7 linked regions of the Homo sapiens genome follow. The protein of the gene in region 1 interacts with the protein of each later gene in a pairwise test. Each region holds a gene or a part of one and is shown in the gene's direction. Other genes may lie near its edges. The genes, in order: SPATA12, POGZ, MECP2, KRTAP26-1, CHAT, A2M and DNALI1.

What was found.
Region 2: the proteins of SPATA12 (region 1) and POGZ interact in binary tests that used the Homo sapiens proteins (3 or more experiments, as listed by UniProt).
Region 3: the proteins of SPATA12 (region 1) and MECP2 interact in binary tests that used the Homo sapiens proteins (3 or more experiments, as listed by UniProt).
Region 4: the proteins of SPATA12 (region 1) and KRTAP26-1 interact in binary tests that used the Homo sapiens proteins (3 or more experiments, as listed by UniProt).
Region 5: the proteins of SPATA12 (region 1) and CHAT interact in binary tests that used the Homo sapiens proteins (3 or more experiments, as listed by UniProt).
Region 6: the proteins of SPATA12 (region 1) and A2M interact in binary tests that used the Homo sapiens proteins (3 or more experiments, as listed by UniProt).
Region 7: the proteins of SPATA12 (region 1) and DNALI1 interact in binary tests that used the Homo sapiens proteins (3 or more experiments, as listed by UniProt).

What each region holds. Positions count from the first base shown.
Region 1 is NC_000003.12:57,063,453-57,067,430, forward strand, and holds part of SPATA12 (spermatogenesis-associated protein 12), read left to right. Parts: intron 1-3,978.
Region 2 is NC_000001.11:151,410,623-151,414,600, reverse strand, and holds part of POGZ (pogo transposable element with ZNF domain), read left to right. Parts: intron 1-2,204; coding exon 2,205-2,305; intron 2,306-2,829; coding exon 2,830-2,976; intron 2,977-3,978. UniProt on the Homo sapiens protein: Plays a role in mitotic cell cycle progression and is involved in kinetochore assembly and mitotic sister chromatid cohesion.
Region 3 is NC_000023.11:154,091,133-154,095,110, reverse strand, and holds part of MECP2 (methyl-CpG-binding protein 2), read left to right. Parts: exon of another isoform or gene 1-733; intron 734-1,561; exon of another isoform or gene 1,562-2,901; coding exon of another isoform or gene 2,902-2,927; intron 2,928-3,978. UniProt on the Homo sapiens protein: Chromosomal protein that binds to methylated DNA. It can bind specifically to a single methyl-CpG pair. It is not influenced by sequences flanking the methyl-CpGs.
Region 4 is NC_000021.9:30,318,260-30,321,630, reverse strand, and holds KRTAP26-1 (keratin-associated protein 26-1), read left to right. Parts: upstream 1-1,315; 5' UTR 1,316-1,595; coding exon 1,596-2,228; 3' UTR 2,229-2,507; downstream 2,508-3,371. UniProt on the Homo sapiens protein: In the hair cortex, hair keratin intermediate filaments are embedded in an interfilamentous matrix, consisting of hair keratin-associated proteins (KRTAP), which are essential for the formation of a rigid and resistant hair shaft through their extensive disulfide bond cross-linking with abundant cysteine residues of hair keratins.
Region 5 is NC_000010.11:49,612,536-49,617,111, forward strand, and holds the start of CHAT (choline O-acetyltransferase), read left to right. Parts: upstream 1-1,501; 5' UTR 1,502-1,654; coding exon 1,655-1,940; intron 1,941-3,487; exon of another isoform or gene 3,488-3,517; coding exon of another isoform or gene 3,518-3,557; intron 3,558-3,966; coding exon 3,967-4,067; intron 4,068-4,576. UniProt on the Homo sapiens protein: Catalyzes the reversible synthesis of acetylcholine (ACh) from acetyl CoA and choline at cholinergic synapses.
Region 6 is NC_000012.12:9,098,743-9,102,720, reverse strand, and holds part of A2M (alpha-2-macroglobulin isoform a precursor), read left to right. Parts: intron 1-1,046; coding exon 1,047-1,274; intron 1,275-1,513; coding exon 1,514-1,577; intron 1,578-3,197; coding exon 3,198-3,340; intron 3,341-3,964; coding exon 3,965-3,978. UniProt on the Homo sapiens protein: Is able to inhibit all four classes of proteinases by a unique 'trapping' mechanism. This protein has a peptide stretch, called the 'bait region' which contains specific cleavage sites for different proteinases.
Region 7 is NC_000001.11:37,559,754-37,563,731, forward strand, and holds part of DNALI1 (axonemal dynein light intermediate polypeptide 1), read left to right. Parts: intron 1-1,803; coding exon 1,804-1,982; intron 1,983-2,327; coding exon 2,328-2,492; intron 2,493-3,978. UniProt on the Homo sapiens protein: Involved in sperm flagellum assembly.

The sequences.
Region 1 (3,978 bases):
AGAGGGGAGAATGACCTGGAGGGTGGTAGGAGCGGGAGGGGAGCAGTGGCCACTCTACAAGTAGAGTCTTTTGACAAGTGAAGAGAAGAGAGATACAAAAGTCAAAGATGACGCCCCAGGCTTTGGGCCTGAGCAACCAGGAGGTTGGGGTGCTCCTTAACAGAGATGTGGGAAGAGGATCAGGAGAGTCGGGCATCCTAGAAGCCAGGTGAGACAAGGCTTCGAGGAAGAGAAAGTGACCAACTCCATCACACGCTGCTGGTAGTCAGGAAGGATGGCAACAGAGAACAGGCCATTGGGATGAGCAACCAGGCACTCACTGTAGACCTTGGTAAGAGATATCTGGGGAGAGGGGAGTGGAAGCCAAGCCTGCCTGAAATGAGGGGCTCAAAAGAGAATGGGATAGCAGCATCATTCACAATAGACAAAAGGTGGAAGCAACTCAGTGTCCATGACAGATGAATGGTAGAACAAAATGTGGCAAATGCATAGAATTGAATAATATTCTGCCTTAAAAAGGAGGGAAATTCCATGCCAGCTGTGCTGGCTCACGCCTGTAATCCCAGCACTTTGGGAGGCCCAGGGAGGGGGACTGCCTGAGCTCAGGGGCTCGAGACCAGCCTGGGCAACATGGCAAAACCCTGTCTCTACCAAAAATACAAAAAAATTAATTGGGCATAGTGGTGCATGCCTGTAGTCCCAGCTAACCCGGAAGCTGAGGTCAGAGGATTGCTTGAGCCTGGGGGGTAGAGGTTGCAGTGAGCTGAGATTGTGCCACTGCAGCAATCAGTGACAGAGTGAGGCCCCGTCTCAAAAAACAAAACAGAAAACCAAAAACCAAGAAGGAAATTCTTTCTTTTTTTTTTCTTTCTTTTTTTTTCTTTTTTTGGAGACAGGGTTTCCCTCTGTTATCCAGGCTGGGATGCAGCGGCAAGATCACGGCTCACTGCAGCCTCAACTTCCCTGACTCAAGTGATCCTCCCATCTCAGCCCCCAAGTAGCTGAGATTACAGGTGCATGCCACCACGCCCAGCAAATTGCTGTATTTTTTGTAGACAGGGTATCACCATGTTGCCAAGGCTGGTTTTGAACCCCTGGGCTCAACATCCGCCTCCTCGGTGCTGGGATTACAGGCATGAGCCACCATACCCAGCCCAAAGGAAGGAAATTCTGACACATGTTACAACATGGGTGAACCTTGAGCACATTATGCTGAGTGAAATAAGCCAGTCACAAAAGGACAAATATGGCATGATTCCACTTATATGAGGTATCTAGAACAGTCAAATTCAGAGACAGAAAGTAGAATGCTGGTCTCCAGGGACTAGGGGCAGGGGGGAATGGGAGTTGCTGTTTAATGGATACAGTGTTTCAGTGTCACAAGATGAAAAGCTCTGCAGATTGGTTGCACAATAATATCAGTATACGCAACACTACTGACCTGAAAACTTAAAAATAGTCAACACAGTAAATTTTACGTTATGTGTGTTTTATCACAATTTTTTGAGACACAATAGAAGGCAAAAAATTAGTAAGTCCAGAAAATTATTTCAAAAAGTTTTGCTCTAAACTGAAGAGAAATGGGTGTATAACTGTAGGGAGAAGTAGGGTGGAGAGAGGGTTCTGCTGTTTTTAAGTTGGGAGAAATAACTGCATGTTTATTTGCTGATGGGACCAATCCAGTAGGCCATGGTCTTAAATGTTGAAATTACTTGCAAAAGGCCGGGCGCAGTGGCTCACGCCTCACGCCTGTAATCCCAGCACTTCGGGAGGCCGAGGCGGGCAGATAACTTGAGGTCAGGAGTTCGACACCAGCCTGGCCAACATGGTGAAACCCTATCTCTACGAAAAATACAAAATTAGCCGGGTGTGATGGTGTGCACCTGTAGTCCCAGCTACTAAGGAGGATGAGGCAGGAGAATCACTTGAGCCCAGGAGGCAGAGGTTGCAGTAAGCTGAGATTATGTCACTGCACTCCAGCCTGGGCAACAGAGCAGGACTCCATCACAAAACAAAAAAAAAAGAAATTACTTGCAAAAGAAAAACTGTATTTTAGGATGATAAATATTCTGGAACTAGTGGTGATATCTGCACTACCGTATGCATGTGCTAAAAAACAGACTGGGTACTTGAAAAGGGTCAATTTTGTGGTATGTTAATTATACCTCAATAAAAATAAAAGCTATAATAAATGTTTAATGTCTTCCAAATACCATGTTCTCATACAGGCTGAGTTCCCACCCAGGCAGCCCCAGATACCTACAGTTTCTGTGGCCAGTGACCCACCACAGCTAGGTGGTAGCCTGCGGAACAGGAGAGGCAAGGTCATCCTCATTACGGCTGAGTCACAAATGCTGCATTAGCACACACAGCCCCCTACAGCTAGATCTACGGAGCATGCACCAATTTGTTGCAGATAAATGGCACCTTTTACTTAGGCCCATGAACTCTCAGGTCTTCAGTCTTAAAATGAAATCTAAGAGCTGGGCACAGTAATTCACATCTGTAATCCCAGCTACTCAGGAGGCTGAGGCAGGAGGATCACTTGAGGCCAGGAGGGCAACACAGTGAGACTCTGTCTCCAAAACAAAAAAAAAAAACCCTAAAATGTAAGAAAAAATCCTTTCAATCAGAACAAGAAACTCTGCACCCCCACTGCCAATCTGCCCACCCATCTGGTCCACCTGTAATTGCAAGAGAACAAGGGAGGGACTTATTTTGCAGTCAATCAAAGGGGAGGGAATTCTTTCCGAAATGTTCTCCTATCTGTACCAACAGCACACTTCCACTTCCAACCATTACACTTTTCCTTTCTTTCTTTTTTTTTTTTTCTGAAACAGAGTCTGACTCTGTCACCCAGGTACAGTGGCATGATCTTGGCTCACCGCAACCTCCGCCTCCCAGGTTCAAGCGATTCACCTGCCTCAGCCTCCCAAGTAGCTGGGATTGCAGGCACCCGCCACCATGCCTGGCTTAATTTTTGTATTTTTAGTAGAGACGGGGTTTCACCATGTTGGCTAGGCTGGTCTTGAACTCCTGACCTCAAGTGATCCATCCGCCTCGGCCTCCCAAAGTGCTGGGACTATTGGCGTGAGCCACCGCGCCCAGGCTTTTGCCTTTTTCCTTTCTTCTGAACAACCTCAAACAGTATTTTACCCACTGTGATGATTAATTTTATGTGTCAACTTGGCTAGACCATGGTAACCAGCTATTTGGTCAAACATTCTAGACATTTCTGTGAAGGTATTTTTTAGATGAGATTAACATTTAAATCAGTGGACTTAGAGTAAAGCAGATTATTCTCCATGATGTGGTGGGCTTTATCCAATCAGCTATAAGCCTTAATAGAAAAAGACCGACCTCCCAGAGCAGGAAGAATTCTACCCAGAGAGCCTTTGGGCTCACTGCAACTCTTCCCTGGGTCTCCGGCCTGCCAGTCTACCTTGCTGATTTTTGACTCACCTGGCCTCCACAATCACATGAGCCAATTCCTAAAAATCAACCTCTCAATAGATAGATGAGCGATTGATTGACACACATCCTGTTGGTTCTGTTTCTCTCCAAACCCTAATACACACCCAAAATAAGTGATTTTCCAATAGAAATTGTCTGTAAGGACCTGTACTTGCATGAAATTTCAAGTCACCAGATAAATGAATAAAAATATATTTTTTAAAAACCACAAAATATGGCAACCCAGAAAGAATAACATTTGTCGGCCAGGCGCGGTGGCTCACGCCTGTAATCCCAGTACTTTGGGAGGCCAAGGCGGGTGGATCACAAGGTCAGGAGATCGAGACTATCCTGGCTAACACGGTGAAACCCTGTCTCTTCTAAAAATACAAAAACAAAATTAGCCGGGCGTGGTGGCGGGCGCCTGTACTCCCAGTTACTCGGGAGGCTGAGGCGGGAGAATGGCGTGAACCCAGGAGGCAGAGCTTATAGTGAGCCAAGATTGCGCCACTGCACTCCAGCCTG
Region 2 (3,978 bases), on another chromosome or scaffold:
ATGTTGGTCAGGCTTGTCTTGAACTCCCAACCTCAGGTGATCCGCCTGCCTTGGCCTCCCAAAGTGTTGGGATTACAGGCATGAGCCACCGTGCCCAGCCAACACATGTAAATCTTAACCTGATGCTTGTACATTAGAAATTGCTTAATAAGTGTTTTTATTATTGATGTTGCATGACAGCTGTGAAAATAGAGCTGATAAATAGGTTATAGGAGAAAGAGTGAATGAGATTGCCCAGGGAAAACATAGACTAAGAAAGGCCTGGACAAAATATTGCTTAAAGGTGTTCTAGAAGAGAAAAATGAGAGAGGTAAACAAATCGGGGGGTGAGTGGAAAAGAGATAATATCGTTATGTTGCTAGTTAACTGTTTCCCAAACATGTGGTTAACTTTCATACCTACTTGCCTTTCCTCCTGCTTTTCTCTTGGTCCTCTCTCTGGCTGGCTGAGCCCCATTCTTTGACAATTCAGCTTTTATATGTTGTTATAGCTTTTCCTCATTCCTTTATGCAGAATTTCTTATTTATCCATGTCCTCATAGCACCTAATGTACCTGTAGACAGTGTTTCTAAATGGAGTTGCAGACCTCTTTGAGAATAAATATGAAATGTTTGAATCCTCTTCCTAGAAAAATCTACATTTTACTCTTTTGCAAATAATTTCAGAGAAAGCCTGGATTCCTAGAGGCCTGTTCCATAGACCCCAGATTAAGAACCCCTGGCTTTTGTTTGTTTGTTTTACTTTAAAAAATTACTTGGCTAGGCACAGTGGCTCATACCTGTAATTCTGGTACTTTGGGAGGCTGAGATGGGAGGATTGCTTGAGCTTGGGAGGTCAGGGTTGCAGTGAGCCATGATTGAGCCACTGCGCTCTAGCGTGCGAGACAGAACGAGACTCTGTCTCAAAACAAAAATCCAGGGTTCTCGGTAGTTAAAAAAAGAAAAAAGAATTATTTCAACTTTATTCATATTTCTTTGGCTGGGGTGTAGGGGGCTGGGGGCGGGGGGAGGTTAGACATTGTCCAGTAAATGCCCAAGGCTTTAAGCTTCCAGTTTTCATATTTGCAAAAACTTGAAACTAATTCCATTAAAGTGACAAAAATGTAAATAATCTCTCTCTTTTTGCCATACTGTATAATTAAAAATATGTAGCAGTTAAAAGTCTTACCAAAATTGGCCGGTGCACTGGCTCACACCTGTAATTCTAGCACTTTGGGAGACTGAAGTGGATTGACAAAAGGATTGCTTGAGGCCAGGAGTTTCCGACCAGCCTGGGCAACATGGCGAGACCCTGTCCCTACAAAAAAAAATTTTTTTTAATTACTTGGGCATGGTGGTGCACCACTGTAGTCCTAGCTACTTGGGAGGCTGAAACAGGAGGCTCGCTTGAGCTCAAAGGATAGTCCTAGCTACTCAGGAGGCTGCGGTGAGCTATGATCATGCTCCAGCCTGAGCAACAGTGAGATTCTGTCTCTTAAAAAAAAAAAAAAAAAAAAAAGCCCAGGCACGGTGGCTCACACCTATAATCCCAGCACTTTGGGAGGCTGGGACAGGTAGATCACCTGAGGTCAGGAGTTCGAGACCAACCTGGCCAACATGAAATTACCAAAAATTGTCTCAGAAGTTTGACAAAATTGTTCATTTGTGTCATAAAATTTTGTCAAAATTTTTTCTCATAAGCTTGACAAAATGGACAATTTCAAAGAGAGTAGGAGGTATTGGAGGCCAGCTGATTAGCAGTGGGAAATCATATGGGCTAGTACCAAGTTTTTGCCTTATTATAAGTATAGAGAAGTGACAGTTCCTACATGCAGTTTGAAATAATGGTGACAGAATGCAGGGTTTGGAATCCGAGATAGTGCCTAAATTTTGAGCTCAGGAAGAAATGGGGAAAGGAAAAAGGGAAACAGTGGTAAGACAGGAGGATGCTGAATTAGGTTAGAGTTGACGATAGAATAACCAATTTAAAATGTCTTATAGATAAAATCTAGAATGAAGCTTTGGTAAGAAGTCTGAGCTACGTACATAAGATTATCAGCAACATATATGTTAAGGTGGAGCCATTTAAAGAAAGAACAGAAGGGACCTATGATTTACTGATTGTTGAAAATCAAAATAAAGGAGGCAGAGAAAATAAAGATTGTGAGTCAGCAGGACTTTTGTCTTATTTTCAAGTGGATTTATTGATTACTTTTCTTCTTACAGCCAAGTGCAAGATCTGTGAATGGGCGTTTGAAAGTGAGCCACTATTTCTCCAGCATATGAAGGATACTCATAAGCCTGGAGAGATGCCTTATGTTTGCCAGGTATTGCCTTTTTCTCCAGGGAGTTTTAGCAGTTTTGCCCTCAGGAAGAATACAAAGAATTTACTAATGAATATTGTTGACCACCTACTGCATACACTCAGTTTAGGAACTCTGAGTAGGTACAGAAGAAATAGTAAACACAGTTTATCTTCAGGGTTTCCATGCAGGAGAAAAACATAAAAGAACATGTCCACAAGTAGACTAGCCGGGAACATGTGCATATTCTAAGGGAGTGTCTGTCTCCTGAACGTGCCCTTTGGAAATTGACAGAAAAGGCTTTATTTTTCTTAGTTAGAGAACATGGATTATTCTTAGACTTTCTGTCCCTTCCTATTTTTAAAGTAATAGCTAAACCTATCACAAACATAGCCCAGCATTACAAAGTCAGGAAAATAATTTGATTTCTATGCATTTGAGAAAACTTTTTTTTTTTAATTTAAAAATTTTTGTTGCTACCTTTTTTTTTAAGGCCTCTCAGTTGTTCACTTCATTCTTAGCCTTATTTTCCCTCCTATGTGACTCAGGTGTGTCAATATCGCTCCTCACTCTACTCTGAGGTAGATGTCCATTTTCGGATGATCCATGAGGATACCCGGCATCTGCTCTGCCCTTATTGCCTGAAGGTCTTCAAAAATGGCAATGCATTCCAACAGCATTACATGAGGCACCAGGTACTAGGCACCAAGCAATTCCCATATTCTCTTGTTTTTTTTTTTTTTAAACATGGATGCTGGGGCCAGGGCTGAGCTAGGCAAATAATTTGGGCAGAGATTATAATATGCATATGTTTGCAGAAATTTATTGAATTCACTTAATGTGCCATGTACTAGTCTAGATGCTAGAGATTTAGTAGTAAACAAGGCAAACAATACAATAAAACATGAAGAGTACTGTGTTGGGGAAATTATAGGATATAGAAAATCACATAGCTATTCTGGGTGCCTAGTAAGGCTTCCAGAAAGAAGTGTTGTTCAATACCTGAGGGATGAATAAGAATGAGCCAGATGAAATAAGACGAAGAACAGTGTGCCCAAGGCACAAAGCAAAATTGTGGAGGTTCAAGAAATTGAGAGAGATTCAGTGTAGGGTGTAAGAGACAGAGGGGTTGGAAGTTAGGCAGGGACAGATCATGGAGGATCTTTTAAGCCATGAAAAGAATTCACTGGGAAGCCACTAAAGGGGTTTTAAGCCCTGGAGTGATGTGTTCAGCTTTAGTTAAGGCTTTATACTGCCTGCACTGCAGAGAATGGATTAAAGGAGATTGAGACTACAGTTAGGGAAACTAGCTAGAAGGCCTTTTTCAGTAGTTTAGGTGAGAGATGATAGTGGCTATTGGCTTTTGAAATAAAAAGAGGGTAGAGTTGAGAGATATTCAGAAGATTTGTGATATTTATGATGTAGAGATGGATTAGGTGAAGGTAGCAATGCAGTAGTTAAGAATAGTGCCTAAGATTCTGTCTTGGGCAGTTGGGTGAATGAGGGAACTATTTGCTGAAATAGAAACAATAGAGAAAGTATATTTGTGAGGGGGGAGATCATGAGCTTGGATATTGTAAGTTAGCAGTATCTGTGGATGTCAAGTGTAGCTGTTGGATAATAGATCTCAAGCCTGTGAGAGAACTCTGGGTTGTAGAAAAGATTTAGGAATCAGCGTTATATAAATCCTATAGATT
Region 3 (3,978 bases), on another chromosome or scaffold:
TTCAAAGGGTTATGGTGCTTGCATTCTGTGTGTATATGTTTGTAATTTCCAACCAGAGTCGTTTCCCGTGCCTGCCCTGCCTCTGTGCAATCTAGTCTAGTAGGGTAGGGAGGCAAGCTGTGGAGTTTGAAAAAAAAAAAAAAAAGCTAGATGAGTTTAATAGGCTGTTACCCCCTCCAGAACATTCCTCCCATGTGGAGATGAAACGAGAAGTTCATTTCTTTAACCTAAAATAAAGAACAACAGAGATAAAATTGTTAGTTCCTTATTGGAGCCTGGTTTCCATTGCTAATGTACCTGCTTGGGACTCTGCATGATAAATGACGTGTCCTGGAACCTGAAATCTTTTATAAAGGTTAATATCAGCAGAAATCTTTTAATTAGCTAAGAGCAGCTTGTTCTCAAGCTGCCCGAGTTATCTTGGAGGAGAGAATCACAGGAAATGTTTGATATTTCTAGTAACCAGTGTTTTCAGTGCGTGGGGTAAAGCACACTCCTAGACTGGCCAGTCCCAAAGAGTGTGGCAGGACACCTGCTTGTTTTCCCTGCCCTCTGCTATGGTGACATCCTTGCAGACCAGTCTTGCGTGGCTGGCAGACGCAATCTTTTTTTCTTGGGTAGAGCATTATCACCGCTGCGATGGAAGGACCTTGTCCTCGGTGCCTCCATACCAGCCCTTTCCAGTGAAACTACTGCTGTCCCGGCAAGCCCCTGTGCGTGTGCATCATTCCGGGTAGGACAAGATGTGAACAGGTCCCTCTTCTTTGGGCTTAAGTAGAAGTTGTGCTCTTCTGCTTTTACCTGTGTGCTCTTCTGCTTTTACCTGTTCTCTTCTGCCTTTCTCTTGCAAGAAACCTGTCGAAAGCTTGCTTTGCATGCCATTGCTTAAATACTTTGATGGTATGTATGGTATGTGGGATAACTGAGTGGGAGCCGGAATTGGGGGGTGGGCAGGGCATCCCCACCCCCACCCCCACATCAAAGGGGGAATGACCATTTCGTTAGAGAATAAAGCCTGAGTCTTATAACTTCTTCAAGCACATGTATGCTGGGTCTCCTGGCGTGTGAATGTGTTCCCGCTGTGCTGTGTGGCTGTTTTGCAGTTACTGTAGACACTGTAGTCTGGGCTCTCATTATTGCCTCTGAAGTTGACAGGACCAAGCCTTAGTAAGGATGCACTTGTCTTCCTAGCCCAAGAGCTAGGGGTGTTTTATATATATATTAACTTTCTTTTTTAGATTTCATAAACTGCTCTCATTTTCTCTTTTCTTTCTTTCTTTTTTTTTTTTTTTTTTTGAGACAGTCTCACTCTGTCACCCATGCTGGAGTGCAGTGGCACGATCTCAGCTCACTGCAACCTCTGCCTCCCGGGCTCAAGCAGTTCTCTGCCTCAGCCTCCCAAGTAGCTGGGATTACAGGCACCTGCCACCACGCCTGGCTAATTTTTGTATTTTTTTTTTTTTTTTTTTTTTTTTTTAGTCGAGACGGGGTTTCACCATCTTGGCCACGCTGGTCTTGAACTCCTGACCTCGTGATCCACCCGCTTCAGCCTCCCAAAGTGCAGGGATTACAGGCGTGAGCCACCGCACCCAGCCTCTGGCTCTTTTCTTTTTGACATGAAATCTTAAGTTAATTATCTTAAACTTTAAGAACTAGAAGGATTCTTAGTCCAGCACCATCAGTTTACAAACAAAAAAAACTTGTGTCCCTGAGAAGTTGTGACTTTTCCAGGGCCTCCTAGCCAGGATACCAGTTTGGTTTTTATTATATAGCTAGCCGAGTAATACTATTAACTTGACTTCTGGGATTTCAAAGTATTCTATGACTTGACTGTTTAAGGGAATTATGAGGCCTCACTGAACCTCAAAAGATAATTTTAGGTACCATCCTGGTAGCTGTAGAGCAGCAACAGACCAGTAAAAGACTTGGTTGGTGTTGCCCTTCTTCTGGGTTTGATTACATGAGTAATTGTGTGAATAGTCTCTAAGTTGTATGCTCTGAGCTTTCGTTTTTAGCTTATAAAAGTGCTACTCTTGGGCCAGCATAGTATCAGAAATTAGCTAATTCATATGGGGCAGTTTAGGCTTTAACTAGGAAATGATGGTTATCTTAATGACAAAAAAGGTACTGACAAAAGTCCTTTTTTGAACATGTGTTCAAAAGAAAAAGAGAAACTATCAAACTAATAACTGAGTTTGTTGAACATCGAGATTGACTGATCTGAGAGGCTTAAAACTGATTGCCCTGAAATAGACTTGCATGTTTTGGATGATGGCTTTGGGTCTCCCAGAGCACTTGGTTTCCCTTGGTGCTGATTTTTTCTCTCAGGATTAAAGCCCCTTTATGTGATGTTGTTACAGCAGCTTATTGCAACTTCATTCAGCTGCTTGAAAAAGAAGGGAGACTGCCTCTAGGTTCCATGTGTTCTTTCAGGGATGGTATTTTGATGTTGCGTATTCTCTTGAACATGTATTCTTCCCTGAGAATTTCTGTGTGCCGTGGTAGAAGAAATACTTGCCAGAAATCGCCACTCATGGTATGCTTTTGTAGTGTCGAAGTGTCCCCTAGAGGTGACAAGGCTTGTGATAGTGTTGATTCTAACAAGCATGAATCTTTCCTTTATTTTAGCACTGTGTGTTACGTGCCAGTAATTTGCAGCTTATCCTTTGTTTCTAGCTAGGTAAGCTGGGAAATAGCCTAGTACTTTGTCTATGTGTTTATCTTCAAAATGTCCCAAATAGCCCTGGGAAAAAGGTCGTGCAGCTCAATGGGGGCTTTCAACTTACAATTTTCTTTGTTTTAGGCTCCATAAAAATACAGACTCACCAGTTCCTGCTTTGATGTGACATGTGACTCCCCAGAATACACCTTGCTTCTGTAGACCAGCTCCAACAGGATTCCATGGTAGCTGGGATGTTAGGGCTCAGGTAAGTAACCTTCCTTTTTTTTTTTTTAGTATATGTCCTGGTTTGGCCATCTGTTTTTTTTTTTTTTAAAAAAAAAAAAAAAAGGAAAAGAGGAAAAAAATATACTACTCTTGGACAGTATAAAAGTACCCCAAAGACTAAAGACATAACTGTGCCAAACTGTGCCATATAATAAAAAAAAGTCACTTCCCTGAGCCCTGAAAGGTCAGTGTGTGTAGGGTTACTTGGTCGCCACAGCGTGATCTGGGGGCGGGCGTCAGATTAGAGCCGGAACTGGTGATCTGCAACTTCAGTTCACCTTGAAGCAGGTCAGCTGAGCTGAGAGCGCTTGCACTGAGCCCTTTTGCGCTGCTGCTGTTGCCTTAGCGGTCTTCAGCATGTGTTTGCTTTGGTTTGGGGTAAATGGCTTAGTGGTCAACATTAGTGAGCAGTGGTAATGCATTTTCAGATATGGGAACTGGTATGTGGTTGGTTCCCTAGAAGGACACCCTCCTGAAAGCTGTCTCAGAACACCGGGGGCCATGGCTAATGTCATGTGCTTGCTACACTCCTCCCATGGTAACTAAAGAGAGTACCCAGATATACATCTGGTTCTTGGGACTCTAGAGGAGGATGAGTACTTTGTAAAAACCTGGGGGCCCCAGTCATTCTAGGTCTGACACTCAGGTGCTGTATCAGCTGCAGTTTGAACTACTTGGCACCATTGTGTGGACTTTAGTTTTGTAAAAATGAATGGTTCCTTAATTTCTCAACCTTCAGGCTCAACATCTCAAGCTGTTTGTTGTTGTTGTTGTTGTTGTTGTTTTGTTTTGTCTTTTTGATTAGTGGTCACTCCGCATTTGATGTTTTGACATGTGGATTTCAGAACTTCTGTGTGGTAAAGCAGAATGTTCCAATTGAATTTTCCCATTTTTTTTCCCCTAAGCAAAAATGTGAGTTTTCACTTATGCGGCCATTGTGATTCCGACTGAGACCCTAAGTCGTTCTTTGTTGTCTCTCTAGTGGTTTCTGACACCTCAGTGTGAAGCTGTTGTAGACATCCATAAGAAAT
Region 4 (3,371 bases), on another chromosome or scaffold:
AGACTCTAGCAGCTGTATACACAGAGTATTAGGTGATGTCCGAAGTATACAAAGTATCCGGTTATACAAACAGTATTAGGTGATGAGGGCCTGGGGTTGGGGGTTGGAGTGAGTGGGGCTTTCTCAAATACATCAGGTACAAATCGTCTGACCTAAAATACTGAGATAAATTCAACATGTTAGTACAGGACCTCCGGGATTATACCATTTTATTTTTATATTTCTCCCCCAGTAGTAAAATAGTCTAGTGTTGTCTCATTGAGAAACCAACTTTCTGTTTCAGAGATTTCACTCCTCCAGGACAGAGGGAGACTGGATAAGCACAAGTATGTCCCTCAAACACCAAAATAGAAGAAAGTGTTATGATTTAAATTGACTAGCCAAAAGGAATTGGAACTTAGAGCCAGCAGATAATTTAAAATCCCATTAAAATAGCTACTGGAGCCACTGGGTATGTCAGTATGAGAAAAATATAGAGGGATAGTTGAAACTAACTAAAATCATACATTTTTTAAAACAATTTTACCAGAAATACATATTCTCAAATGACCTTTAAAGTACTAAAACTTAGGAAAACAATAATTTATCCTGATGCTTTTCCCTATGTAAAGCAGTTTAGAAGCTCCTTTTTGGAAATTGACATCAAGGCCAATGTAGAAAGCAAAATAAATTCATGTCATAATCAGTGTATTTTTTAACCAAGAACAATATTTTTTCAGTTGGAATATGAGAAACCATGCAATACATAACCTTGAAATAATCATGAAAAATGTCAAGATGCCTGACTTTCTTTAAGAGGTCTACTTCTCTGCTTTTGTTCACAGTAGGATACATAATTTTAACTTGGCCCAACTTCATTATCTATATTCAAGAATATCTTAAACATAAGCCAAGGTTTCAGCTTCACTCAGCTTATTTATTTATTGAAATGACTAAAATGAGCACATATTTTTGAATAAAGATATTTTGGTAGAAAGTCAAGTCTGAATAGAATTCTGAAATAAAGCAAATCACAACTTAGAAAAATAAATTCTAACCAAGCAAAACATATTGAAATTGTCCATATTTCTGTCATATAGTTTGCAAGGATTTTCATTTTCTCTTATACTTGTTCCAAGTTACTCACTTCTGGCAATTTCCAAGAAGAATAGAATTTTTCTTCAAAAAGATGTAAGTTCTCACTGTTTCAAAGAAGTTGCTACAACTTTCAAAGACAATTCTAAGAGAGGAATCTTAAGAATGTTTGTGCAATGGTGGTTATAATTGGAATAAGCACATAGGCTTTAAAATGTGTCTGTTTTGTTTGGATAATTTAAGAAGGATAGATCCTATTAAAACTCAGTCGCATTGGTTTATAGATAGACGTAATCAATGGATGGCATTGCAAGGAGCATCCAGTTTTATGGAGGGTGGAAGCCTCACTTCCTTGGCTATAATAAAGAGTTCTGATGCATCTTCATACAACAAGAGGAAGAGTCTGCACGCAGAAGCACCACCTTCTAGGGATAAATAAAGGGTCAAGCTAAGGAAGGGCAGAACAAACTTCAGACACTCACTTCTTTGCCTCAACTTCAGCCTGCTCTCACAACCTCACTATGTCTTGCCCCAACTACTGCTCGGGAAACTCCAACTCAGGATCTCTCAGAACCTCCCGCCATATTCCTCTCACCTCCATCGACCTCTGCCCTACCAGCGTGAGCTGTGGAGATGTCCTCTACTTACCCACTAGCTCTCAAGACCATACCTGGGTCACAGACAACTGCCAAGAGACCTGCGGTGAACCAACCAGCTGCCAGCCGGTCCACTGTGAGACCGGCAATCTTGAAACCTCTTGCGGTTCTTCCACTGCTTACTACGTGCCCAGGCCTTGCCAAGGAAGCAGTTTTCTTCCTGCTTCTTTCTTCTCCAGTTCCTGCCTTCCAGTATCCTGTAGACCACAGAGGTATGTGTCCAGCGGCTGTCGTCCACTGAGGCCGCTGCTCAATAGTTACCAGCCCATAGGAGACTGTGTGCCCAATGCCTATCGCCCCCAATTCTGCTTGTCCAAGAGTTGCCAGCCCCAAAACCTCCTCACTTCTGGATGCCAACCCTCGAGTTGCTTGGCCTATCGTCCTCAAAGTCTTCACGTTGTGTCCAGCAGCCTCAGACCTCTGGGGCCTCTGTTCAGTGGTTGCCAACCTCTGACCCATGTGTTCAGCACGTGTCGTCCATCTTGCTCTGGACTGTGAAACCAGCAGCTTCTTTGTTCCAGTGAATAATCACTCTGAGCATCCACAACAAAAATTCAAACTCCATGGACTTTTGCTTCTTTGCTAGTAGCAACTGATGTTTCTTAGTTTTACTGTGCCTGATCTAATGCAAGCTGCTTCTCTCGCATGTTTTATCTTGTTTTCATCTTTCCTTGACATCAAAAAAATTAGTTTACAATGCTATTCAATGTTGCTCTGGTCTGGGAAGAATGTATTTGTTTTGCACTATAATAAATGCGATTAAGTCCAAATTAAGAATCTGGTTCAGCGCTTTGTGTTTCATGACTTAATTTCAACACAGAAATAACCAACGTCAATTGCTTGCAAGATGACTGAGCTGGACAAGTGATACTCAACCATATATTCTTACCTGACAGTAGAGGGATTGTTTGATGGTTTATTCCTTAAGCTGCTTTTTAGACTTCTGACCCTATGTACTTGAGAGACCCAAAAAGTCCTTGGGAAAGCTGTTTTGAAAAGGAAAAATTAGGAGTGATGTCTCTTATCTCTCTACCCCATGAACACACTTCCACCAGAATGTTCTTTCTAATTGCAAACCTAACCAAGTTTCTGCTTACGCCTTTGATGGCTTCCTATAATCTATTCCCATAAGATAAATATTCAAACCTCTTAGCATGACACCTAGTTCCCTCACTGTCTTTCTCCCCCATACCTCTCTGGCTTCATGCTCTTTTGCTCAATATTGCAAATAATAAAACTAAGCTCCTGCGATCCTGACTTACACATGGGTCCCCAAACATATGCTTTTTACAGTCATCCATCCTTTTGCATAGGTCATCATCGAGAGCGGTATGTTCTTCAGCTCTGTTTTGAAAACTCATACTTGCTTTTACAAAAACACAGTCTTGAGTTCATTAATTAATCTTTTGATTTATTCAGAAACAAAGGTACTGCTTGCATACTATATGCCAGGCACAAAAGATACTGAGGTGAACAAAACAGTCCTGAACTATCACAGAATTTGCCAGAAGTTATAAGCTATGGGACATGTAACAATTAAAGATACATTTTTTCTCTCACTCAACCTAAAATGTGTGGGGGCATATATTTCATTAATTAAAAGGAAATAAAGTTTTAAAAGCCTGAATATTTACCTTTTTG
Region 5 (4,576 bases), on another chromosome or scaffold:
GCACCGAGGCCAGCGAAGCCATCGCGCTCCTTGCGGAGGTGAAGAGGACCCTGAGTCCCCACCTGCGGCTCCCCTGTGTAGAGCCTGCATCTGTCTGTCCTTCCTTCCATTGCTCCCAGTGCCAAACTTGGGCCGCTGCACCGCGGCGCCTCCGCCCAAATCAATAAACTGTGTCTGTCCCAGGAGGCCGAGTCTCTTTACTGGTGGGGGGTGCGTGGAGGCGCGCAGGGCCAGAGCAGAGGGGAGGGTGAACTGGGTCTCCAAGTCCCAATCCAGACCTAAGCCAAACTAACACGTAGGCACCTGTAGCTGTTTTTCTACCTGGAAAAGGGGATAGGAAGGAAGCAAACCCAACAAAGGCTGTCACCCACGGTCACCAAGGAGCACCATGCTCCCCTCAGCCCAGGATAGACCCTCTTTTCCAGGCCTAGCGCAGAGCCCGGGGATGCCGCCCGGGGGAGCCTGAGGACCCGCTCCAGCTAGGCACGCCAGGCCCCGCCCTTTGAGGACACGCCCCACACCAGCCTCAGAGCTCTGAGGTGCCTGGGCTGAGCTTCCCTTCAGACCAGAATCCCGCCCCGTTGAGGCTTTGAGAAAGGAGTAGGAGCCGAGCATTCCGGCAGAGGAAGAAAAACGGCCCATCTTTTAGAGTCCGACCTCTGGAAATGTGTGTATGATGTGATGTGTGTGTTCATTAGAGAACTTGTCCTAGGAGGAGTGGGGGAGCCGTGGTTGGTGTTTGCTGTATCCCTGTCAGTCCCGAGGGTCTGAGTCTTGAAGGGAGAGATGCGAGTGTGGGATCTGGTGCCAACCCCCACTGCCACCCTGTCCTGAGTGGGAGCAGCGGCCCAGGACTGTCAGGAAAGTTTCCCATCCTTAGTCCCAGCCCTGAGAGCCTCAAGCCAGCGTTCGCGCAACACTCCATGTCCCGAAGACCGTAGTCTGATGATCGAGGCAGAGTCTTCCCATCATAGCGTGAAGAGGCGGCTGGTCAGGGTCGCCTGTGTGTTAGCTGCGCCTGTGAGGGTCTGCTCTGCTGTTGTGCGCATGTCTGTCCTCGATCTGCGAGTCGGGCTGTGTGTGCCTGGGCGGAGTCTGCCTTTGTCGGTCTGTCTGTGCTATTTCTGTGTGGGGGTCTCTATCTGGGGTGGGGGATGCTTTTGTCTGAGAGGAGAGCCTGCCTCTTGCCGCAGTCCTTAAGCATCCTCAGGTCTGCCATCAGGATTGTCCCAAGTCTGTAGCACCCCACCTCTGCTCCCCACCCCATAGTGCCAGCAGGAATGGGATGGTAACAGAAAGGGAAGTCCTGCAGTGAATATTGATCCCAGTTATTGTTTCTTATTATTATTTTGAAAGATGGTGTAGCAGGGTTTGAGACTGGCCTGGATGGTGGGGAGAGGAGGGCAGCGAGCAGAGACTTCCTCAGACCCAACCCTCTCCAGGATTCAGCAGCAGCACCCCAAGGCTGGAATAATGGGGTTGGGGAAGTGCGGTGACTGGGAAATGCTGAGCTAGGGGCAGGAGGCATGGGCGGGACAGTGTTCTGTGCCCCCTTCTAGAGCCTAAATTTGTTGCCCGAGTTCCTCCGGGAAGCGCTCCGGGTAGATTCTGGGGGCCGGGAGCTGAGATCCCTGGGCGGGGAGCTGGGGAAGGGATGGGGCTGAGGACAGCGAAGAAGAGGGGGCTTGGGGGAGGGGGGAAATGGAAGAGAGAGGAGGGAGGAGGTACAAGAGGAAGGAGAGAAGTGCGGCCAGCTTGCTTTCTCCAGTCGGGTGGCCGCGGGGACCCGGGCGACGTCGGAGGCCCTGCCGGGAACCCAGGCTGCAGCCCCCACCCCCGCGCTGCGACACGCCCCCCACCCCTTCCGGCTCACACCCCCGCCCACACTCCTGAGTGGTGCGGTGCAGCGTCGGCCGAGGCAGCAGAGCCGAGGAGAGCAGGTGAGAAGAAGGGCTGGGCTGGGCTGGCGGAGCGCGGTGCCGGGAGCAAGGGCGGCGGTCGGGGGCTCTATCCAGGGACAGCACCGGGGCCGAGAGGCCCCAGGACTCGTGGAGTCCTCTGAGTCCTGCGCAGCAGCGGCCGTCGGGGGTCAGCTAGGAAGCTGCAGGATTGCGTTGCTTCGGTGCCTGGGCTTGGGGAGGCTTAACCATCAGGGCTTCGGGACTCCAAGCGCATGTTCTCACTTCACTTGGCCCAGCATCTGCTAAGTGACCAGGTCCGCGCTTTCTGTGTCTAGTCGGAGGGTCCTTGGGTCTGACCCGACTCGCCTGAATTGCTGGTTGGCAACCGCTTCTCCCGGGAGCAGGGGGTGGGGAAGGAGGAGCAGTGGCTGGTGGCAAGTCTGAGCCAGGACATAGCCGATGACAGCCTGTGAATGACCGGCCAGACTGGGGTTGGACCTTCGGGGCAGAGCAGGCAGCCCTTGGAAAGCCAGGCTGGCAGGAGCATGGGTGGGAGGCACAAAACACAAACAGACATATATACACATACATCCTCTAGGCATCTGCCCAGGAGTGATGGAGGAAGAAGAGTTGGTAGGTGGGACCACCAGGAAACCATCCCACCCAGCTCTGCCTTCTTCAAGCTCAGGGTCCCTGAAGCCTGACTAGTGTCTCCCGAATGGGGGGGAGGGGGGGGCTCTGGGCCAGAGCAAAAGGAGGCATTGGCTGCATGGTCTGTAGGGCCTTTACCAACCTGACCTTGTCCTTGCTGTCCTCTCAAAAGACTGCCATGCTCCGGTGAATCCTCACCAGGACGCCACCTCTTTCACTTTGCAGTTGGGGGCAGCCCCTACGAACCCACAGCACTGGGAGGCGTGGGAACAAGCCTGTGGAGAGTGTCCCTGCACTGTGCCAGCAAGGGCTTTACATTCTCTGCCCAGCACTGCAAGGCAGCCCCAGGCTCCTCCATCCTTGGGCCTGGTTCATCCATCTTTCTGGACTCTCTGTTCCTGGCAACAACCCTGCCAGGTGCCCATACATGGGCGGTGCTTGCCTCTGGGTAGGGGTGGTGTTGGGTGGGGAGAGGGGTGAGGAAATTAGCTAAACCTCAGCTTTAGACTTGAGAGAATAGAGGGTGGGCTGGTGGAAAACATGAGTATGTGCCTGTGGAGGCTTAGGTTCAGGGGGATCTCAGAGGGTAGCAATTGTGACCCACAGCCTAATAATAACAGTCTTTGCCCTCTTGGCCTGGCTCACTTCTACTGTACCTTCAAAATTAATCTGCCTCTCCCCAGACTAAGGCAGGTGGCCCCTAGGGGCCCTGGCTGCCCAGCCTCCCTGCATACCTCCCTGGGCACTCCTATGGCATCTACACTGGCAGCCTGCAGACCCGAGACTGCCTAGGTCACAACGCCTCCAGCAGGCCCAGAGTCTCCCTGCCCTGGCCACAGGCCAGGCTCCCAATTAGCCCAGATGCATCCTGGAGCACAGGGCCTTAAAGGCCTCCATTCACCCACGCATGCATTCCTTTCCCTCCACCAACGGAGTGAGGGAATTCACCCTACTCCACACCAGAGATGTGGCCGGAATGCAGAGATGAAGCACTGAGCACAGTAGGTATGGTCTTACCCTTGAGAAGCTAGTGGGAAAGAGAGAGTTTGATTGGCAAAGCACTTATCTATTGGGTTCCAGGCAGGAACAAAGGCAGCACTCTGCCAGCAACCCCTGGTGGATTTGGATTGCCCCAGGGTGGTCAGCTGGCCTTGGGTGACAACAGACTCATGAGAGCAGACCCTCACTTTAGGAACCACTCTCTCCCATATGGGGGCCCAGAGAGAACACTGTGGTCAGCACGTACAGGTGGAAGTAGAGACTGGGGCCACGCCTGCAATGAGACCCCTATACACAGCTGTCAGGCTCTGGCCTCCTCATGGGGCTGGGGTGGGGGTCTGTTGGCGGGAGGTGGAGGGTTTGTGACAGGCCTATGTGGCTGCTGTGTTGATGCTTCCCACTTCTTGGTCCCCAGGTCCACACCTCTGCATCCCTGCACCAGGACTCACCAAGACGCCCATCCTGGAAAAGGTCCCCCGTAAGATGGCAGCAAAAACTCCCAGCAGTGAGGAGTCTGTGAGTGACTTTTGGAGCCCTCTCTCAACCCTGCTTTCCCCACCTACATGCCCTTGCTTCTAGAACAGTCCTGAGTGGGACTGGCCCCCAGCATTTGCCTGGCCCCAGCCCTGCCCTCTACTGGCACAAGGCCCAGGCTACAGCTCCACCCCCAGCTTGCTGAGGATCCCAGAAGGGCCTGGAGGGGCTGAGACGGGCCTCAGGGTGCCAAGGAAATGCTAAGAGCTTAACTTCCAAATCCCCTGGCCAGGCTAGGCCCTATCTTTCCTTCCAGGGCCTCTCTTCATCCCAGCTTCCACTTCTGATAGCTTTGAGCCCAGTGATTTTGCCTTAGGGTGGGGCTGAATTCCTACTCCAAGCCCTGCAAGTCCCAGCTCCAGCTGCTATCACTAGTTCAGCCTTGGAGCCTTAGGCACCATGTTCTCCACTGGCCTGAGACAATGCCATCCTCCCTGGGCAGGCATCCTCCCTCCCGCCCCAGCCAGCCTTCGGGTGGCAGAGCAACACAC
Region 6 (3,978 bases), on another chromosome or scaffold:
TCACCAAAATATACATTAAGATATGAACAAAATGTTTTGCTCAAGGATTCACTAGTGCTATTGGGAGCTGGGGATGAAGGTAGAGGAAGCCTGAAAGGAGCTAAGGAATAACTTCTACAGGAAGAAAAGTTGGAAATATAACCCAAATAGGGCCTCTGAGGTATTAGAATCCAGATTGCAGGGAGCATTAAAAATAGTCAGCCTAGGCCAGGCACGGTAGCTCACGCCTGTAATCCCAGCACTTTGGGAGGCTGAGGTGGGTGGATTGCGTGAGGCCAGGAGATCGAGACGAGCCTAGGCAACGTGGTGAAACCCTGTCTCTACAAAATATACAAAAAATTAGCTGGGTGGGGTGGCATGCACCTGTAGTCCTAGCAACTCAGGAGGCTGACTGGGAGGATCACTTGAGCCCCAGAGGCAGAGATTGCACTGAGCCAAGATTGTGCCACTGTACTCCAGCATGGGCGCCAGAGCAAAACCCTGTCTCAAAAAAATAATAATAATAGCAATCAGCCTAAGATAGCCCAGAAGAGGTAGACTTCAGCTAATTCATCAGCTCAGCTCTTAAACCAATGCTTTCTACCAATGTCTTCTCAGACCCCTAAGGTTACAATATTTTATTTATTCATAATACCCATTCAAAATCCACCCTAAAAGAGGCAGCTGCTTTCTGAAAGCACAGTTCTTCCATTTCTAGAGATTATTTACTCTCCTCAATGAAGTTTCATAGCTCCAGTGTCTCTAATTGCACAGGTAAAGCAGTCAAAGAAATTTCAAGCAAGCTAATCAGAGCAAAGGATGCCTCCTTTTATGCTCTTAAGAAATATAAATCTCAATCCCAGGAGGCTCTGCAGTGTAAAGTCACAAAGCATGCCTACATTTGAAGCAGAGAAACAAAATCAGGGGTCCTTCTCCCACTTTTCATTGTGGAACAAAAGATTTCTAGCTACTAGTTAAGGTAGGACAGTAAACTTACGTAGTTTTGTGAGAACATTAATCTTTATGACGTATAATCTAAAAATAATATAATTTTTCTAATTCATTAGGTCAATTACAAGGATCGTAGTCCCTGTTACGGCTACCAGTGGGTGTCAGAAGAACACGAAGAGGCACATCACACTGCTTATCTTGTGTTCTCCCCAAGCAAGAGCTTTGTCCACCTTGAGCCCATGTCTCATGAACTACCCTGTGGCCATACTCAGACAGTCCAGGCACATTATATTCTGAATGGAGGCACCCTGCTGGGGCTGAAGAAGCTCTCCTTCTATTATCTGGTGAGAAGGGAGGTTACTGCGTTGACTTCACTGTAGACAAAAGCTCTCTGTGGAGCAAGTAATCATGAAGCTCTTTAGATGTCATTACTTCAACTTCTTATCCATGTTCCTTTTGAAAGTTTGATTTCTCTTGAGGTGAATTATTGCCGGCAGGGACTCAATAAAACAAGTATATTGAAGTGAGACTGAAGCGTGTTCTCTCTGGCACATTTAATTTCTTTTTATTTCCTTTTTTGCAGATAATGGCAAAGGGAGGCATTGTCCGAACTGGGACTCATGGACTGCTTGTGAAGCAGGAAGACAGTGAGTATTTCCATCATCTCTGCATTGCTGCCCCATTCTGACCCATTCAGCCTTACACCACGGAAGTATCAGAATACTTTCCCTTTTTTTCCATAGGTTTTTGGGGGAACAGGTGGTGTTTGGTCACATGAATGAATAAATTCTTTGGTAGTGATTTCCGAGATTTTGGTGCACCCATCACCCGAGCAGTATACATTGTACCCAATTTGCAGTCTTTTATCCCTCACCCCCTTCCACCCTTCCCCCTGAATCCACAAAGTCCATTGTATCATTCTTATGCCTTTGCATCCTCATAACTTAGCTCCCACTTCCTAATAGCTTAGCTGCCACTTCCTAATAGCTTAGCTCCTACTTCTGAGTGAGAAGATATGATGTTTGGTTTTCCATTCCTGAGCTGGGAATATCAGGAATACTTTCAAGTAACGAGAGACCATTTCCATCTAATATTAATTAAAAGAAAGTTGAGGGAGGGAAAACAATAATGGTTTTTTTCTCACCCTTTATCAAATATGTGTTGTCTTTTTTTTCAGCCTATTTTCTTTGCGTTATTTAAAATATTGGTGTGGGCCAGCTATGATGGCTTACGCCTGTAATCCCAGTACTTTGGGAGAACGGGATGGGAGGATCTCTTGAGGTCAGGAGTTTGAGACCAGCCTGGTCAACATAGTGAGACCCCATCTCTATAAAAGTAAATAAATAAATAAATAAATAAATAAGAACAAAGGGGGAAAAATAAAATACATAAAATATTGTTGTGTATAATCTATGCTTATTCCAGATTTTTAAACCATAAATATTCTTGAACCTCTTCTCAAAATGAGAATTGTGTTAGAGAATGGGGTGGAGAAAATGTACGATTTCAAGGTATGTTGTATATACCAGGTCTTGTGCTGAGTCATTTATGTCATTTATATTATTATAAATATCTTTTTTCCCTTTCAAGATAGTTATGATTTATGAAGCATTAAATTGGGTACTTCTACCGACTGAAGCGGACTCTTGCCATGAGCAAATATGTCATAATATAAACCTTTGAAGGTTGCTCCTAGTCTAGTAGACTCTAAAAGATAACTTGCTAGAAAAGTATCAGTAATCTACTCTCTCATTAGTTCTTGTAGCAACACAGAAGCACCATAGCAGACTGAAGGAAACTTAATGCAACCTCTAAAGAATCTACATAGGCATCAAAAAATAACTTCTGAAGGAGCATGGTGTTCCTCTTATGGAGAAAGAACCAAATATTGGCTCATAGAAGGTTAAAGAGCATGTAGCATGAATACAATGTGTTGAACTCTTACTCTTACATCTCATAACTTCAGGTTCTATTTCCCTCTTCTAGTATGAGGCCTAGATCAAATGGTAGTGAATTGGATGTCTTCATACCCTTAACTAGCATCAGAACATTAGGTGGGTGAGCTGAAGCTTAAAGCTGGTGAAAAATCAACAGAGTATATGATTTATGAGAGGAGAGAGGGCTTTGATAGGGTTTTTTTCTAAAGCTAGAGTCCTTAGAGGTAATCATCCATTTGTTACATCTACTGTTTATTATGTCTGTTACATCTACTAATGGAAATAGTCATTAACCTATGATGGCTTCCTCTCATTCTCTTTGTGCCCCAGTGAAGGGCCATTTTTCCATCTCAATCCCTGTGAAGTCAGACATTGCTCCTGTCGCTCGGTTGCTCATCTATGCTGTTTTACCTACCGGGGACGTGATTGGGGATTCTGCAAAATATGATGTTGAAAATTGTCTGGCCAACAAGGTGTGTGTTTTAGATCATAAAATCTTCAACATGTAAAACTAGAAGTTACTATTGTTATCATTTGTTTTACACATGTGAACATTAGGGCCAAAAGGGTTAAACAAATTCCCCAGAGACATTCAGCAAGGTAGTGGCAGAGTCACACTAAGAAGCAGAATCACTTGATTCCTTATACAAAACTCTCAAACTTCTCCTAGCAGTGCCTCTTACCAATTACACAGTTCAGAGTATGTTATTCCCTTCTTCTATGATGAAACGTTGGGAAATATGTAAGCAAGTTTTTAAGACTACTAAGGAGCCAAAAGAAAAATGCAAGAGCACCTAGACCCATGCATGTCCCACCACAATTAATGAGCACCTTGCCGTGTATCAAAGATAAAAATGGCATTTCATGACTAGTAATTTATAAGAATAATTAGAAATAATTCTACTGGCTCAAGTGATTCTTGAGAATGAAAGAGAAGTGTAGGGAACAAAAAGCTTCAGGATTGACACAATGCCAACCCTCCACGAAGTCAAGCAGAGTGGTTATACATTGTACATGAGGAACACTCTGCAAATGCGAGTGAATGCATGGGTAAACCTGGAAATTTGCTTTTCTGACCTTTTGTTCCAATTTCACAGGTGGATTTGAGCTT
Region 7 (3,978 bases), on another chromosome or scaffold:
GACAAAGTATAGAGAAAGAAAGGTGGGCCCAGGGGACCGGCACTCAGCATACGGAGGACCCGCACCGGCACTGGTCTCTGAGTTTCCTCAGTATTTATTGATTACTATTTTCACTATCTCAGCAAGAGGAATGTGGCAGGAGAGCAGGGTGATAGTGGGGAGAAGATCAGCAAGAAAACACGTGAGCAAAGGAATCTGTGTCACGAATAAGTTCAAGGGAAGGTACTATGCCTGGATGTGCACGTAGGCCGGATTTATGCTTCTCTCTACCCAGACATCTCAGTGGAGTAAAGAGTAACAGAGCAGCATTGCTGCCAACATGTCTCGCCTCCCGCCACAGGGCGTTTTTTCTCCTATCTCAGAACAAACGTACAATCAGGTTTTATACTGAGACATTCAGTTCCCAGGGGCAGGCAGAAGACAGAGGCCTTTCTCTTATCTCAACGGCAAGGGGCCTTCCTCTTTTACTAATCCTCCTCAGCACAGACCCTTCACGGGTGTCAGGCTGAGGGACGGTCAGGTCTTTCCCATCCCACCAGGCCATATTTCAGGCTATCACGTGGGGAGAAACCTTGGACAATACCTGGCTTTCCAGGGCAGAGATCCCTGCGGCTTTCTGCAGTGCATTGTGCCCCTGGTTTATCGAGAATGGAGAATGGCGATGACTTTTACCAAGCATGCTGCCTGTAAACATTTTGTTAACAAGGCACATCCTGCACAGCCGTAGATCCCTTAAACCTTGATTCCATACATCACATGTTTCTGTGAGCTCAAGGTTGGGGCAAAGTTACAGATTAACGGCATCTTAGGGCAAAGCAATTGTTCAGGGTACAGGTCAAAATGGAGTTTCTTGTGTCTTTCTTTTCAACGTAGACACAGTAACAGTCTGATCTCTCCTTCTTTTCCCTACACCAGCCCCGCCTCTTCTACAAGTCCTCCAGCTGCCAACCACTATATTCTTGGCAACTTGAGTTCCTCACCCCTTAGCAGATGTTTGGAGTAAAACGATAACTTCCATCTGTTTTTTCAAAGATTTTCTATAATAAGCATGTGCTAATTTTTTAGTCAGAAAGATTAATGTTCAGTATTTACATCCATCCATCCATCCATCAATATTTGGCCCTTGGTCCAGAAAAATATTGTGATTTGTTGTTAACCCACAGACACGAGAGATTTAAGATGCACCTCCTTGAGTGCTGGTGTCAAATGGCTGTCTCCCAGCCCAGTCTCATTGGCTCTTATGGACGCCGATCTGCAAACCACCTCCAAACCCTCAGGCAGCTGCAGGGTCTAGCAGGCTTCCCTATCCGTGTGTTATTATGGTTTGCCCTCCAGGTCAGCATTTATGGGGAGATAGATGGGCAAGCTCTAGACCCTGCCATTTCCCTCAAACCAGTGCAGCCAAGGGGGCACACAGGATGTCCCAGCTGCTTTAAAACAGCTGCCATCTTTAAACAGAAAAAGTCAGGTTTTTTCGAGTAGTAACCAGTTTTTACCTAAGGCAGGAAGGGAGGGGACCCAGTGCTGTAAACAAACCAGAGCCTCTTGTCTCCTTTGCTCTGGCCAACCCAGTCTTGCTGACTGTGCTACTCACAAGTGCCAAGTTCAGAGGAGTGACTGCATGGCAAGGCTCTTTGGGCCACTGAAGGCACCCTCCCTGAGGCCCTTCTCTGAGGCCTTGCACTTTGTCTCCAAGCGAGAACACCCTAATGTCCTTCCCAAGAGGAAGGGTGTTTGCAGTAGACATACTGCAAGCCCCCTCCCCACGCCCTGTCTGATCTCATGGTGTGTGTGCATTGGAAGATGAGTTGATCCGGGAGGTCACCATCAACTGTGCGGAGAGGGGGCTGCTGCTGCTGCGAGTCCGGGACGAGATCCGCATGACCATCGCTGCCTACCAGACCCTGTACGAGAGCAGCGTGGCGTTTGGCATGAGGAAGGCACTGCAGGCTGAGCAGGGGAAGTCAGACATGGAGAGGAAAGTGAGTGGGGTTTACCGTGACCCTTGGTCCCATCTCTTCTGTAAACCTCAGGGCCACATGCTTATCATTCCAGCACTACATTCTGACCTCCTAAGGTGCTCTGCTGACAGTCACGACACCTGGACTTGCATCACCTCAGTGAGGGACCCCTGGTTGAGTATGATGGCCAGCCTGGTGGTCTTGGCAGAGTTGTTTCCGCTGTAGACGCTCCATGCCAGGCACTGACCTCCCACTGGGTGGCAGTATATACCCTGGCAATGTCATGTCCCATGTCCCTTCCACCCAGGCTCACACCATTCCATTCACCTGGCGACATCCCAGGATGACTGGGCATTCTCTCCTCAGATCGCAGAATTGGAGACGGAAAAGAGAGACCTGGAGAGGCAAGTGAACGAGCAGAAGGCAAAATGTGAAGCCACTGAGAAGCGGGAGAGCGAGAGGCGGCAGGTGGAGGAGAAGAAGCACAATGAGGAGATTCAGTTCCTGAAGCGAACAAATCAGCAGCTGAAGGTAATCAACGCGCAGGGTGGGGTGGAGGTGCCCCCTGCCCTGCGACCCAGCCCCACAGGCCAGGCATTCGGTTCCTTTTCCATGGCTTTTAAATGTTTGTCCACATGCACTGCCAAAGGATAAAGGAAGCTGACTTTGGTGGTGGGAGAAGGGGAGGGCTCCAGAGGGGGTCTCTACTCTCAACTCCAAATCTCTGAGGCGCCTCAGCCTGGCTCTCCAGTGGAGGATTCTTCTCCCTGGAAAAAAGTTGCCCATCCTCAAGGAAGAGGTGGATATGGCAAAAAGTGGAACTCCATTCCCCTGGAAGCTGGTATGTTGGAGCCTTTCTGGAGGGGGCTGGGCTCCAGGTGGCTTGCGTGGTAGTGCCATCCCATGGCTGTCTCCTCTGAGGCCCTGTTTCAGGGCATAACCAGGGAAGAAGTCAAAGGGCAGCAGGGCCCTTTGAGAGGAAGAACCATTTCAAATCAGAAACCTTCCCCAGAAATGTGGTCGGGGAACCCAGGCACAGGTGCTCTTCCTCGAAGTCCGATGCCAGCAGTGGTCTTTTATCCAGCTGAGGTGATAGGAGGGAGGGGGCTGGTGGACAAAGCTGGGCAGGAGGCCATGCTACAGGCACTGCAACTCCCAGCTGTTTGGTCCAAAGGTCTCAAAAGGTAGGCCCTAGATCAACATCGTCCTCACCTGGCAAAGCAAGACAAATTATTGGGCCCACCCCAGATCTACCAAATCAGAAAATTCGGGGTTGGGGTCCAGCAATGTGCTTTAACAAGGTCTCAGGTGATTCTAATGTTTGCAGAAGTTTGAGCATCACTGTTCTGGAAAGATGGCCTACTGACATTTAGTGGCCTTCTCCCATGGCCCTGGCCAAAGGACCCTGGATGGATCTCCCTCTCCTCCCTAGGCTCAGATAGAAACCTTACAATCTTGACATTGCAGGCTTGTTTGGTCTACACACCAGCAGGACTGGCCATTTGCGATAAAGAAGGCTTTCTGTTAACCACTACTGGAACTTTTCTTGTTGCACAAAGAAAAGCAAGAAACTTTCACAGCCAGAGATGAATCTGTTTCCTTAGCAGCCTCTGAGGCTGCTTTCCTTAACTGCCATATTCCTTTTTCATAAGCCTGAGTTCCTCAGTTCTTCCTGGATTAGCAACAAGAGCAAACCAAATACCTTAGCATGTTTCTAACATTTAAAAGCAATCTTGTAATCTCCAGGGTGAAAGATTCTTTAGAAGTTGGCATTTTTAAATTTTTTTTCTTTTGAGACGGAGTTTTGCTCTTGTTGCCCAGGCTGGAGTGCAATGGCACCATCTCAACTCATTGCAACCTCTACCTCCCGGGTTGAAGTGATTCTCTTGCCTCAGCCTCCTGAGTAGCTGGGATTACAGGCATGTGCCAGCACGCCCGGCAAATTTCTGTATTTTGAATAGAGATGGGGTTTCACCATGTTGGCCAGGCTGGTCATGAACTCCTGACCTCACATGAT